Homo sapiens: one gene and its partner. The protein of the gene in region 1 interacts with the protein of each later gene in a biochemical or structural test. Each region holds a gene or a part of one and is shown on either strand. Other genes may lie near its edges.

The links. Proteins that work in one complex are often made in the same cells at the same time.
Region 2: the proteins of PTGES3 (region 1) and HSF1 form a complex in vitro, tested with the Homo sapiens proteins (2 studies listed by BioGRID).

What each region holds. Positions count from the first base shown.
Region 1 is NC_000012.12:56,678,272-56,685,295, forward strand, and holds part of PTGES3 (prostaglandin E synthase 3), read right to left. Parts: intron 1-7,024. UniProt on the Homo sapiens protein: Cytosolic prostaglandin synthase that catalyzes the oxidoreduction of prostaglandin endoperoxide H2 (PGH2) to prostaglandin E2 (PGE2).
Region 2 is NC_000008.11:144,308,580-144,315,220, reverse strand, and holds the end of HSF1 (heat shock factor protein 1), read right to left. Parts: exon of another isoform or gene 6,316-6,641; coding exon 6,207-6,315; intron 5,767-6,206; coding exon 5,630-5,766; intron 5,450-5,629; coding exon 5,325-5,449; intron 4,048-5,324; coding exon 3,972-4,047; intron 3,901-3,971; coding exon 3,839-3,900; intron 3,717-3,838; coding exon 3,620-3,716; intron 3,522-3,619; coding exon 3,385-3,521; coding exon of another isoform or gene 3,344-3,384; intron 3,259-3,343; coding exon 2,977-3,258; intron 2,594-2,976; coding exon of another isoform or gene 2,510-2,593; intron 1,711-2,509; coding exon 1,605-1,710; intron 1,376-1,604; coding exon 1,310-1,375; intron 1,237-1,309; coding exon 1,167-1,236; intron 1,097-1,166; coding exon 891-1,096; 3' UTR 501-890; downstream 1-500. UniProt on the Homo sapiens protein: Functions as a stress-inducible and DNA-binding transcription factor that plays a central role in the transcriptional activation of the heat shock response (HSR), leading to the expression of a large class of molecular chaperones, heat shock proteins (HSPs), that protect cells from cellular insult damage.

The DNA of each region.
Region 1 (7,024 bases):
GGTTCAAGCAGTTCTCCTTCCTCAGTCCCTTGAGTAGCTGGGATTACAGGCGCCCGCCACCAAGCCTGGCTAATTTTTGTTTTTTAGTAGAGGCAGGTTTTCACCATGTTGGCCAGGCTGGTCTCGAACTCCTGACCTCAGGTGAGCCACCCGCCTCAGCCTCCCAAAGTGCTGGAATTACAGGAGTGAGCCACCATACCCAGCCTGTTTTGTCTTTTATAATAAAATGTGCATTGCACATAGTAAAACTATCAAATGGATTAAAATAACTGGGACACTTTTCCTAGCAAACTGTTTCCATCTAGCTTCTTTGGTGCATCAATTTTTTATAGTGAAGGGTGCTTGCAGTGTTTTATAAATTAGAGTTATAACTCACCAGATACTAACATATTAAAATTATGGTATTTAGGAACAAATACGGTCTCTGTCCTTTCAAGGCTAACAAAGAGACCTTTTAGATAGGACTATAGAGGATTTTAGGTTATGCAAAATGTAATTGCTTGGATTGGTATATATAGCCCTTCTATTGAGCTTAGAAATGCTTGTCACATCAGCATGGAATAGGCTGGGCACTGTGCCTCATGCCTGGAATCCTAGCACTTTAGGAGGCCAAGGTGAGAGTATCATTTTGGGCCAGGAGTTCAAGACCAGCCTGGGCAACACTGCGAGACCACATCTCTGCCAAAAAGAAAAAAATCGCTGGCCATGGTGACACATGCTTGTAGTCCTAGCTAACTGGGGGGCACTGAGGTGGGAGAATTGCTTGAGACAAGGAGTTTGAGGTTATAGTGAGCATGGTTGTACCACTGCACTCCAGCCTGGGCCACATAGCAAGACCCTGACTTAGAGAAGCATGGAGACCAGGAGTGATGGCTCACATCTAATATCAGCACTTTGGGAGCCCAAGGCTGGCAGATTACTGGAGGCCAGGAGTTCAAACCAACCATGCCAACATGGCAAAACCCTGTCTCTACTGAAGATACAAAAATTAGTTGGGCATGGTAGCATACCTGTAATCCCAGCTACTTGGGAGGCTGAGACATGAGAATCGGTTGAACCCAGGAGGCGGAGGCTACAGTGAGCTGAGATGTGCCCCTGCTGCACCCCAGCCTGGGCAACAGAGTGAGACTCTGCCTCAAAAAAAAAAAAAAAAAAAAAAAGCATGGAATGTCCGCCTGTGGGGTTTATTGTTGTTTTGCTTTAAGTAGATTATTTACATAATGTATGCAGAGGTGGAAAGTTTTGAATCTATAGGGATATTACTATTAAAATGAATTAACAGTCTTACACAATGGTTATGAGTTTAGCCAGTGTTAGCAGAAAGGCTAGAGATAAATCCAGTATAATTAGTTTAGAAGCTAAAGTTAAAGCTAAACTCAGCCCCCTCTCCATATGTTTTGGGTTTGTTTTTTTAGACGGAGTCTCACTCTGTCACCCCGGAGTGACAGGCTGGAGAACGGTGGCATGATCTTGGCTCACCGCAACCTCCACCTCCCAGGTTGAAGCAATTCTTCTGCCTTAGCCTCCCGAGTAGCTGGGATTACAGGTGCCTGCCACCATGCCCGGCTAATTTTTGTATTTTTAGTAGAGACGAGGTGTCATCATGTTGGCAAGGCTGATCTTTAACTCCTGACCTCAAGTGATCCACCTGCCTTGGCTTCCCAAAGTGCTAGGATTACAGGCATGAGCCACCGCACCCAGCCCTCTCCATATGTTAATAGGAGAAAAAGAGATGGTGTAATCCTCATGGAAGGCAAAAGGAGATTTCATAAACGCTGGTTTTCCATTTTTGTTTTATTGGTTTTGGTTTTTTTTTTTTTTTGAGAAAGTCTTGCTGTCGCCCAGGCTGGAGTGCAATGGCGCGATCACAGCTCACTGCAATCTTCACTTCCGGGGTTCAGGTGATCCTCCTGCCTCAGCCTCACAATGAGTAGATGGAACTACAGGCATGCGTCACCACACCTAGCTAATGTTTTCACATTTTTAGTAGAGATGAGGTTTTGCAATATTGGCCAGGCTGGTCTCGAACTCGGCCTCAAGTGATCTGCCCACCTCAGTCCCCCAAAGTGGTGGGATTATAGGTGTGAGTCACTGCACCCAACCCAATTTTCTTTCTTTTTTTTTTTTTGGGGGGACAGAGTTTCACTCTTGCTGCCCTGATTGGACTGCAACGGCGTCATCTTGCCTCTCTGCAACCCCTGCTTCCCAGGTTCAAGCGACTATCCTGCCTCAGCCTCCCAAGTAGCTGGGGTTACAGGCATGTGCCGTCAGGCCTAGCAATTTTTTTTAAGTAGAGATGGGGTTTCACCACGCTGGTCAGGCTGGTCTCCAACTCCTGACCTCAGGTGATCCTCCAGCTTCAGCCTCCCAAAGTGCTGGGATTAACAGGCGTGAGCCACCACACCTGGCCCAGTTCTCCTTTCAAATGAGGGAATACATATGTGTTTATTCCTGATTCAGGATAAGTGTAGGGCACCCTCCACCCACTTGTAGTTTTTGTTTTTTAAAAGTTTTTTTTTTTTTTTGAGACCAGTTCTTGCTTTGTCATTCAGGCTGGAGTGCTGTGGCGTGATCTCAGCTCACACAGCCTTGACTTCGCAGGCTCAGGTGATCCTCCCACCTCAGTCTCCATGGTGGATGGAACCACAGATACATGCTACCACACACCCAGGTTATTTTTTGTAGAGATGGGGTCTTACCTTGTTGCCCAGGCTGGTCTCAAACTTCTGAACTCAGGTGATGCATCCACCCCGGCCTCCCAAAGTGCTGGGATTACAGGTGTGAGTCACCATACCTGGTCCCCCCATTTGTAGTTGTGTTTTGTTTTTTTGTTTGGACAGAGTTTTTGCTCTTGTTGTCCAGACTGGAATGCAATGGCTTGATCTCGTGAACCCCAATCCTATTTCAGACAGCCCCAATCCTATTTCGGACAGCCCCTTTATGATTCTCAAATTAGTGCTGTGTAAATGGGTATTTTAAGAATCAGGCCGGGCGCGGTGGCTCATGCCTGTAATCCCAACACTTTGGGAGGCCGAGGAGGGCGGATCACGAGGTCAGGAGATCCAGACCTTCCTGGCTAACAGAGTGAAACCCCGTCTCTACTAAAAATACAAAAAATTAGCCGGATGAGGTGGCGGGAGCCTGTAGTCCCAGCTACTCGGGAGGCTGAGGCAGGAGAATGGCGTGAACCCGGGAGGCGGAGCCTGCAGTGAGCAAAGATCACGCCACTGCACTCCAGCCTGGGCAACAGAGTGAGACTCCATCTCAAAAAAAAAAAAAAAAAAAAAAAAGAATCAGCCGGGTGCAGTGGCTCATGCCTGTAATCCCAGCACTTTGGGAGGCCAAGGCGGCAGATCTCCTGAGGTCAGGAATTTGAGACCAGCCTGACCAACATGGCGAAACCCCATCTCTACTTAAAAAAAAAAATACAAAAATTAGCCAGGTACGGTGGCATGCGCCTGTAATCCCAGGTACTCAGGGGGCTGAGGCAGGAGAATCGCTTGAACACCCAGGAGGCAGAGCTTGCAGTGAGCCGAAATCACACCATTGCACTCCAGCCTGGGCGACAGAGCAAGACTCCATCTCAAAAAAAAAGAGTCTCACTCTGTAACCCAGGCTGGAGTGCAGCAGTGGCGCATTCTCGGCTCACTGCAACCTCCTCGCCTCCTGGGTTCAAACCATTCTCCTGCCTCAGCCTCCCAAGTAGCTGGGATTACAGGCACCCGCCACGGTGCCCAGCTAATTTTTGTATTTTTAGTAGAGACAGGGTTTCACCATGTTGGCCAGGCTAGTCTGGAACTCCTGACCACAAGTGACCTGCCCGCCTTGGCCTCCAAAAGTGCTGGGATTACATGTGTGAGCCACCGTGCCCAGCTGACATTGGCACTATCAAATGAAGTGTGGCTTCATGTGAATGAGCACCTGAGGCACAGAAAAGCCCCAACAGCACATTTTATTCAGCTTCAGAATACAAAATGGGAAAAGAGCATATGCTGAAGGTGAAGTTAAAATATCAATGAGCAAGTGGCTCCAATTCCAGCACTCTGGGAGGCTGAGGAGGGAAGACTGCTTGAGCCCAAGAGTTTGAGACAAGATAAGCCTTAGCAACATTGTGAGACCCCCGTCTCTAAAAAAAATTAAGTTAGCTGGGTGTGGTGGTGCACACCTGTAGTCCCAACTACTGGGGGACCAAGGCAGGAGGATGGCTTGATCCCAAGTTTGAGGCTGCAGACAGTGATGACACCACTGCACTCCAGCCTGGGCAAAGTAGTGAGACAGTGTCTCAGAAAAGAAGAAATATTCCCGGAAAACCGCAAGTTCAAAGGTATACCAAGGATCGGGTGCAGCAGCTCACACCTGTAAACCCAGGACTTTGGGAGGAAGATCACTTGAGCCCAGGAGTTCAAGACCAACCTGGACAACACGGTAAGATCCCGTCTCCATTTAAAAGAAAAAAAAAAAAAAAGGCCGGGCGTGGTGGCTCACACCTGTAATCCTAGCACTTTGGAAGGCCAAGGTGGGATGATTGCCTGAGCAAAACGGCGAAACCCCATTTCTACTAAAATACAAAAAATTAGCTGGGCATAGCGGCACATGCCTGTAGTCCCAGCTACTTGGGAGTCTGAGAGAGGAGAATCGCTTGAACCTAGGAGGCAGAGGTTGCAGTGAGCCAAGATCGCGCCACTGCACTGCAGTCTGGGCAACAGAATGAGACTCCGCCTCAAGAAAAAAAAAAAAATTTACAAAGGTATACCGAGGAAGCAGGGAAGCAGCCTCATTCTAGAATCTATCATTGCCGGCTGCGGCAGTAGCTCACGCCTGTAATCCCAGCACTCTAGGAGTCTGAGGCGCGTGGATCATGAGGTCAGGAGTTCAAGACCAGCCTGGCCAAGATGGTGAAACCCCATCGCTACTAAAAATATATAAAATTAGGCCAGATGCAGTGGCTCACACCTGTAATCCCAGCACTTTCTGAGGCCGAGGCGGGTGATCACCTGAAGTCGGGAGTTTGAGACCAGCCTGACCAACATGGAGAAACCCCATCTCTACTAATTAGCCGGGCATGGTGGCGCATGCCTGTGATCGCAGCTACCCGGGAGGCTGAGGCAGGAGAATTGCTTGAACACAGGAGGCGGAGGTTGCGGTGAGCCGAGACCGTGACATTGCACTTCAGCCTGGGCAACAAGAGAGAAACTCTGTCTCAAAAAAAAAAAAAAAAAAAAAAAAAAAATTAGCCAGGCATGGCGGCAGGCACCTGGAATCCCAGCTACTCAGGAAGCTGAGGCAGAGAACTACTTCAACCCAGAAGGCGGAGGTTGCAGTGAGCCGAGATCGCACCAGTTCACTCCAGCCTGGGCGACAGAGCCAGACTCCATCTCAAAAAAACAAACAAAAACCAAAACTATGGGCCGGGCGCGGTGGCTCACGCCTGTAATCCCAGCACTTTGGGAGGCCGAGGCAGGCGGATCACGAGATCAGGAGATCGAGACCATTCTGGCTAACACGGTGAAACCCCGTCTCTACTAAAAATACAAAAAATTAGCCGGGCGAGGTGGCGGGTGCCTGTAGTCCCAGCTACTCGGGAGGCTGAGGCAAGAGAATGGCGTGAACCCCAGGGGGCGGAGCCTGCAGTGAGCCGAGATCGCGCCACTGCACTCCAGCCTGGGCGACAGCGAAACTCCGTCTCAAAAAAAAAAAAAACAAAAAAAACAAACAAAAAAAACCCCAAAACTGTAATTGCCGATCCACACAGTAAATAGTAAAAAGTTCAATACACTATTTCCATAGCAAAATATGCTCACTAGAGTATTTTTTGAGCTCACGTAAATATGATCTTAGGTGTTTAACAGCGAGATTGGTTCTGAACAGTTGATATTTACAAAGGTTTTTTTTCCCCTGAAAAGAGACAATCGCTAACCACAAGACCCAAAAATGATAGCTTGTAGATTTTTAAACCGAGAAAATCCAATTAGTCAGGAGAATCTTAATTTAGCAATAAAACACTGGCTTGCACTCAAGAAATTTTTCACTTCCAGTTTCTACTGCCTTCTAGTTAAAGTCTAACTGAACACAGGAAGAAAAATTAAAAATCCAGTTGCCAGGTTACAGTGCACAGGAAATCAATACTGAACAAAGGCCACCCACCATCAGATACTCAAGTTATAGCAATTAACAATATAGCATATGTTCACTACGACAATTTGTTTTGCAGGCTAAAGATGGACAATTTTATTTTGGAGATTCGTTCCTACACAGCTGAATGACAGGAAGATTTTTACCAAAATCAGAGACGCAAGTTTCTGGACAACTTCCTAATTATATACAAGACATTAGACAGGAAAAACAACAACTTCCAACATCTCTAAAATAAATAAAACATTTTACTTTTTCTCTATTTTTAATCGGTCGAACGACAATGATTCAAAAAGAAAATGCGAAGTAGCACCCTCTGGCAAGGTTAGTTAAGCGGAAAATCTTAAGTGGGGGAAGGTCCTAAAAATCCCAGCCTTCTCCAAGATAGGTCCGAAATTAAGAGCTTTTATGTAAATTATGAGACAAACTTTTATAACTTAGGATTTAAAGAAATGTAACTACGAAATCGCTGAAGAGCAAATGAGTAAATCAAATGAGAAAACACACTCCCAAGCCTTTAAGACACCCAGCATAAATCTCTCTCTCCCCAGAGCTTAAAAAAAATTTATTAGCCAGGCATGGTGGTGCTTGCCTGCAGTCCCAGCTACTCGGGAGACTGAGGCAAGGAGGATCGCTTGAGCCCGGGAGGTAGAGGTTGCAGCTGCACTCCAGCCTGGGTGACAGAGGAAGACCCTGTCTCCAAAAAAAACACTTTTAAAACAAGTTATCAACAAAATAAACCCTTATCAGCCAGATTCTTAAGACTGGATGACGACCCATTAAAGGCTTCTTCCACTTCAAATAACTGACTTACAACTTTCATTTTAAAATTTAAGTCTTTAGCTTGTTAAGAGTCCCTGAAGAATTTACTAAACGGCATATATTATTTTTA
Region 2 (6,641 bases), on another chromosome or scaffold:
GGCTCCTGTGCCTCTCCCTATCAGTTGGCCAGTGGAGCTCGAGAACAAACTGTTGCTGCCAGATAAAGCAGCAAAGCCTGCTCCACTGCCCAGCGCAGGCCCCCTTCCCTTCCTCCACCAGGCTGAGTGGAGAACCCTAAAGCTACGGGACAGGCTCCCGTTCCCCGTGCCTACACAGGGTGCTGGCTCTGGCAGAAAGACAGTGTGCCCGCCCCGCATCACCTGTCCGAGTGCGAACACCTTGGGAAGGGGGTTCCTGGTGGTCCTGTGACAACCAGAGACCCCCAGGGCCAAGGTGAGGCGCCCACCCCTGGTCCCTCAATAAAGAACTGCAAGCACATGCTGGTCCTGGGGAGTCGGGCAGGCACGGAGCTAGCTGCAAGCATCCGTCTTCCCCCAGGAGGCCACTGCAGCCCGGCCCTTCTGTGCCCTGGGCCCCTCCTCATTGCAGCACCACCCACCGCACCACCCTGGGACAGAGGAAACACATGGAGGCCATAGCATAGAGCCTGTCTGTTTATAGATCTCTGCCTGTCTTGTCCGTCCATCCACTGTGTGTATATATCTGTGTATCTCTGTGGAGCGGGGAACGGGACAGTTGTGTAAAAATCCAAAATACAATTCTGACTATGAACAACCTGCAGGGTCAGTCCAGGTGTGGCTGTGAAGCCCCAACCAAACCACAGGACACGGGGTTGGGGGAAGGCAGACTGGCAGGCCAGGGTGACCCTCCTGACCAGAGGTGCTGCCCAGACCCGAGCCCGTTTGTCCTACTGGGGCTATGGCGGCCGACCCACCAGTGCCCAAGACCGCGAGGCTGCCCTGCCTCCCCAAGACCAGCCCTGCACTGGGGGTGGGGGTGGGCGGCTGGCCCAGCTCCTCCGGGGCCTCTAGGAGACAGTGGGGTCCTTGGCTTTGGGAGGCTCCGAGCCTGTCAGCAGGGAGATGGTGGGGTCCTCGGCGAAGCCGTCCCCTTCGGAGAAGTAGGAGCCCTCTCCCAGCTCAAACAGCACCGGCAGGTCGTTGCTCCCGGTGTCCACGGAGCCGGGGTCCAGCAGGAACAGCGGCTGCGCTGTGTAGTGCACCAGCTGCTTCCCTGCGGGGGTGGGGGTGTCAAGGCGGTGGGGGGTTGGGGGCAGAGGTGGGGCCGGTGGGACTTGGCTCACCTGAATCCGGGCTGCTGTTCTCTGCCTCGGGAGGCCTGGGGGGCTCCTGGGGAGACAGGAGCTCTTGGATCTGTGGGGTGGAGACGGTATTGTGAGCACTCCCGCTGGTCTCGTTCCCCCTCACCCCCCGCCCGCCTACGCACACTGGCCAGGCTGCTGTCAAGGTCAGGCAGGCTCATGTCGGGCACGGTCACCGAGGGGCTGAACAGCTGCGGAGGAGGGAGGGAAGTCAGAACAGCACCCGGGGGCGGGGCGGGGAGGCGGGGCGGGGAGGCGGGGCGGGGAGGCGGGGAGGCGGGGCGGGGAGGCGGGGAGGCGCGGGGAGGCGGGGCGGGGAGGCGGGGCGGCGGCGCGGGGAGGCGGGGAGGCGGGGCGGGGAGGCGGGGCGGCGCGGCGGGGAGGCGGGGCGGGGAGGCGGGGCGGCGGGGCTCCACTCACGTCCAGCAGGGCACTGGTGTCCACGCTGAAGCCGTGGCTGCTCAGCATGGTCTGCAGGTTATCCAGGTTGGAGTCCATAGCATCCAAGTGGTCACTGAGCTCATTCCTGGCCCGGGATAAGGCGGTACCTGAACCAGTGCCCCAGGCCCCACACCCCAATGCCCTCCTGTGGGAGAAGGGCTCCCCTTGACTGTACCCCCCAGGCTGCACCCCCGTGTACGCCTGCACAGGCTGGAGGGGGCAGCGCATTCGAGGACGGCCTGGAAGGCAGTGGAGGCTCTGTGCCCTGCAGGGGTGCGGCTGGGCCTATGCTGGGCATCCCTTTGCCATGAGGGCCTGGGGGCCTTGGTGGCAGTGGACCCAGGAGACAAGGGGCGTATTCAGCTCCAGCACAAGGATCAGGGATTTCAGTGTTCAGGGTTGGTGAGGTTTCCCGTTGCACTGGGAAAACAGGTGGGGCTCTGCTCAGTGTGTGGGTGGCTCAGTCCCTGCCCTGGTGCTGCTGTGGGGATGAGACCCACGGTCTGGTGGCTGTGACCAAGAAAGCCCTAGGCCACAGGGCACACCTGGGCTATGGGACGGACAGCCAGGCTGGGTCCCAGAGGTGCCCTGGAGACCCTGCCTGACAGGAAGTGCAGTCAGCACCGCAGTCTGGATCCTGCCAACACCAGAGGCCGTGCCAGAGCAGGGAGGCCTGTCCCTGTCATCCCTGTCACAGGCAATGACCACAGGCCCGTGGCCAGGGGAGCCATGACGACACTGAGCCCCCGCCACAGAGGGGTCTCGGCTGCTGCCGCCCAGGCCCGACGCTCATGCCCGGCCAGGCTGGGTCTGGTCCACGGCTGTGTGGGAGGGCCCGAGCGCTGGCAGAGCCCTCCTCCCTCCCCAGTGGGGTCAGCGCTAACCCTGGCTGGACTTGGCCATGCGGAGAGGAAGAGGGGCAGGGGAAGAGGCGGGCGACCCTAGACATCTGTGGAGTGCGAGCCAAACTGCAAGATACAAAAACAAGAGCCCCCATTGCAGGCAGGGGCTGGGGGTGTGGAGGCCGGCCCTGCTCACCATCTCCTGCCATGTGTCTGGGCAGCACGACCTGCCAGGGCCCGTGGCCTGTGGCGAGGGTGGCGGCAGCAGGACGGGTGGCTGAGAGCAGGGCCCGGCAGCCTGTCCGGACATGCCCGTGGCTTCTGTGGCGTTTGGGACTGTGGGGTGATCTGGCTGGCACCTGTCTCCCTCCCCAGCCCCGAGCTCCGAGGTTGGGGGTAGGGTCCTGCCTCGCCAGCTGCCCTGCTCAGTCCACTGGGACAGTCGGGGCTGAAGCCCAGGGCTGTGCGTCCAGGCGCTGTGGGTGGGGCCAGGGGTGGGCGGCACTCACTTGTCCAGGCAGGCTACGCTGAGGCACTTTTCAGGGGTGGAGGTGGGCGGGGGGGAGGGAGGCCGGCCCTCGGTGTCCGTGTGGCCCCTGGCGTCCGTGAGGGCTGTGACGGAGGCGGGGGCAGGTTCACTCTCCCGCAGGATGGAGTCAATGAGGGCGGTCGGGGACAAGAGGGTGTCCACGGAAGATGGGCGCCCGGGACTCGCCTCCTCTACCCGGGGGCTCTGAGGCGGGCTGGGGGGCTCCTCCTTGACACGCACCAGGGGGCTGCTGGATAGGGGCCTGCACACGAGGGGGGCCAGGTGAGCTGGCGTCTCGGCCAGCCCCACCTCATCCCCAACTCTGCCCTGGGCCCACAGGGGCTCGCCTCATTGGGGGACAGGATGGCTGGGGTGATGCGGCCCCCACCTCTCGTCTATGCTCCCGCCGGGGGAGGCCATGGGGCTGGCAGGAGCCAGCTCGGTGATGTCGGAGATGATGGGTCCAGAGCTGGCCACAGCATCAGGGGCGTAGAGGCTGGAGCTGCTGTAGGCTGGGGAGGGGGCCTGCAATCAAAGGCAGGAGGTCCATGCAGTGCCGGCAGGGGCAACCCACCCCACTGCCGCCTGCATGCCTGGGCGGGTGCCCTGTCTCCGGCACTCACCGAGTAGGGGCCCGAGCCGTGGACGTGCTCCAGGGAGAACTGCCGGCTATACTTGGGCATGGAATGTGCTGAGCCACTGTCGTTCAGCATCAGGGGGCTGTGGGGAAGGGTGCAGGTCAGCCACCACCCCCCACCTCGGGGTACCCGGGGCACAGCTGACAGAGAAGGGGGACAGCCCTGGGCCCCGGGTGGTGGATGCAGGCATCCCCAAAACCTCACATCTTTCTCTTCACCCCCAGGATCCGGTTTGACTGCACCAGTGAGATCAGGAACTGAATGAGCTGTGGAGAGAGAGGACACAGTTACCCCGGCCCTTGTGGGGCCCCCGCCGGCCCTCTGGCCCTGCCCCCACCTTGTTGACGACTTTCTGTTGCTGGGCATGCTTCTGCCGAAGGCTGGCCACCTCCCGCCACAGAGCCTCATTCTCACTGCAACAGACCAGGCTGGGTCAGTGGGGCCCAATCCCATGAGCCCCAGGGCTGAGGGAGCCCCACAGACCCTCCCTGTCCCCCATGCAGGAGCAGGGGTAAGTGTGACCATGTCTGGCCTGGCCCACCCCAGGATGAGAACTTGTGTGTGGAGGGACTGGGGGCCAGGGCCAGGGCTTGCTGGTCCCACTGCCCCTCCCTGCCGGGGACACCTGGTGTCACGTAGGGTGTTGGGGATGGATCCATGCGAGCCAGGTGCACCCGGATCCTGGCATCCATCCTGGCAAACACCTGGAGGGCTGCCTTGGACACAGGCCAGGAGCAGACCCTTGGGCCGCCCTTCCAAGGCCTGAGCAGCCAGGTTAAGGGAGGACGGTTCTTCAGGCTGCGACACTGGCTGTCCCATGTCCTGTAGGTGCTCAGGGCCCTCGCCAGGCCTGGAGGTGGCTCAGGGGTGGGGAAGAGCTGTCCCCAGCCAGGTGAGCAGGGCCATGACCGCGCTCCTGCTGCTCTGGGAGGCTGGGCCCTGTCAAGCCTGTGAGTCTTCTTGGTAGGCCAGGTCCACGTGGCCGGACTCCAGGAATCACAAAGCCGGTGGCTCCTGCTAGACCCCATGCAGGAGAGTCTGAGGCCAAGGCCTCCTCCATGACGTGGGGGTCAAGAGCGCCTGCTGCACGGAGCCGAGGAAGCCGTACTGGCATTGGGGTTCCCGCATGCCTGGAGCCCCAAAGTGGACGTGAGACCTGAGCTGGCCTTCCGAGGTGGGCTTGCCTCAGTTTCTCAGGTGCCACCGTGTGTTAGGCTCCTGCTAAGGTTTCCCCAGAGCCGCAGGGTCCCGGTGAGGAGGGGCTGGGGGCTAGCTCCATGGGCCCAGGCGAGTGTGGGACAGCGGTTCCAGGAAGGGCCTGAGGTGGGTCTGACCCCAGGCCCGAGGCGGGTGGGACGGGTCTGCTGTGCAAGGCTTGTCCTCAAAAGTAGGCTGGTGGGTCCCGCCAAGCTCGGAGCCAGGCAGAAGCCAATGGCCCAGAGGGCGCTGGGGATGTGCAGAGCAGGGGACCCTCCCAACCCCCTTCTGCACATGGAAAACGGCTGGCCCCAGAGCTGTTGCAGCAGCCACGGGCGGCGGGGCTGGGGCAGAGGCCCAGGGTAGATGTGCGTGGAGCGGGAGGGTGGAGCTGAGCACCTGGCCCCGGTCAGGGCCCTGCCCCCACAGCACCCGGGGCCTCTTGGTGGGCGCCAGGACCCGCTGTGGCCCATAATGCTGGTGTGGGACCTACTGCTTCATGGCCAGGAGCTTGGAGTCCATGCACTCCTGCTTCCCCTTCATCAGCTGCACGTCCGTCAGCAGCTTGGTGACGCTGTCCTGGCGGATCTTTATGTCTTCACTCTTCAGGGTGGACACCTGGATTCCCGAGAGGGACAGGAGTCACTGGAGCAGCCTAGGAGCTTGGCAGGCTCAGGCTCGTCCACTGCAGCCAGGTCCCTCAGGAAGGGGCAGGCTGGGGTGGGAGCCCTCAGGGAGGGGCGGGCGGGGAGAGCTGTGGCAGGTGAGACCGGGCAAGGGTGCAGGGCCGGCACTCACACTGGTCACTTTCCTCTTGATGTTCTCAAGGAGCTGCTCCTGGCCACGCAGGAAGCATGGGTGCTGGAACTCCGTGTCGTCTCTCTCTGGCTTGACCAGGCCGCCCTGCTCGATGTGGACCACTTTCCGGAAGCCATCTGCACATAACAGGGAAGGGGGCAGCTCTGCCTCAGGGCGGGACCAGAACCCCTGAAGAGCGGCCACTGCTCCAGGAGGCTGCTGCGGGGCTTGGCCATGGTCAGACCCTGCCCTGCCCCCTCAGAGCCCATGCCTGGGTGGCCGAGTGGCCTTGGTCTAAGGGAGACCCTGTGTCCCCACAGGGCTCCCTGCGCCCGACACACGTGGAGTACAGCTCCGGCTTCACGGTTCTTCCATGGGGACCCCAGGTTCATACCCACAAGGACCCTCCCCCATGGAAGAGGCGGCTGCTCCCCGGCCCCCAGGCTTGCAGGGTCCCACGCCATGCCCTTGGCCAGCACAGGACGCCCCGTCCTTCATCACAGGGTCCTCCTGCTGGGGTCCCGCCATCTGCAGGTCTGCCTCCCGCACCCCTGCGCTGCCTGGAGGCAGCACTCACACATGTTGAGCTGCCGCACGAAGCTGGCCATGTTGTTGTGCTTGAAGTACTTGGGCAGCACCTCCTTGGCAAACTGGCCCTGGTCGAACACGTGGAAGCTGTTCCCGCTCTGAAAGGGAGACACATGGGTGGGTCACGCGTGGTGGTGAGGGGCAGCGTGCCCAAGCCGCCCCTTCCCCAGGCCGCCCCTTCTGAAACGCAGGCAGTGCACGTTCCACCTGATGGGGCTGGGGCCATGGGAGGCCCAGGGGGCTGGCGGGAGGCGAGTTCGTTCCTGGGACCACCTGCCACACGGGCCTCATCTGTGCAGCGTGACCTGCATCCTCACTGTGAGGCCCAGGACTGGGCGGTGGGCAGATGCGAGGCCTTCCTCTCAGTCGGAAAGCCCCTCCCCAGGGCTTCCAGAGAAGGCCACGTTTCCACTCACAAAGCATC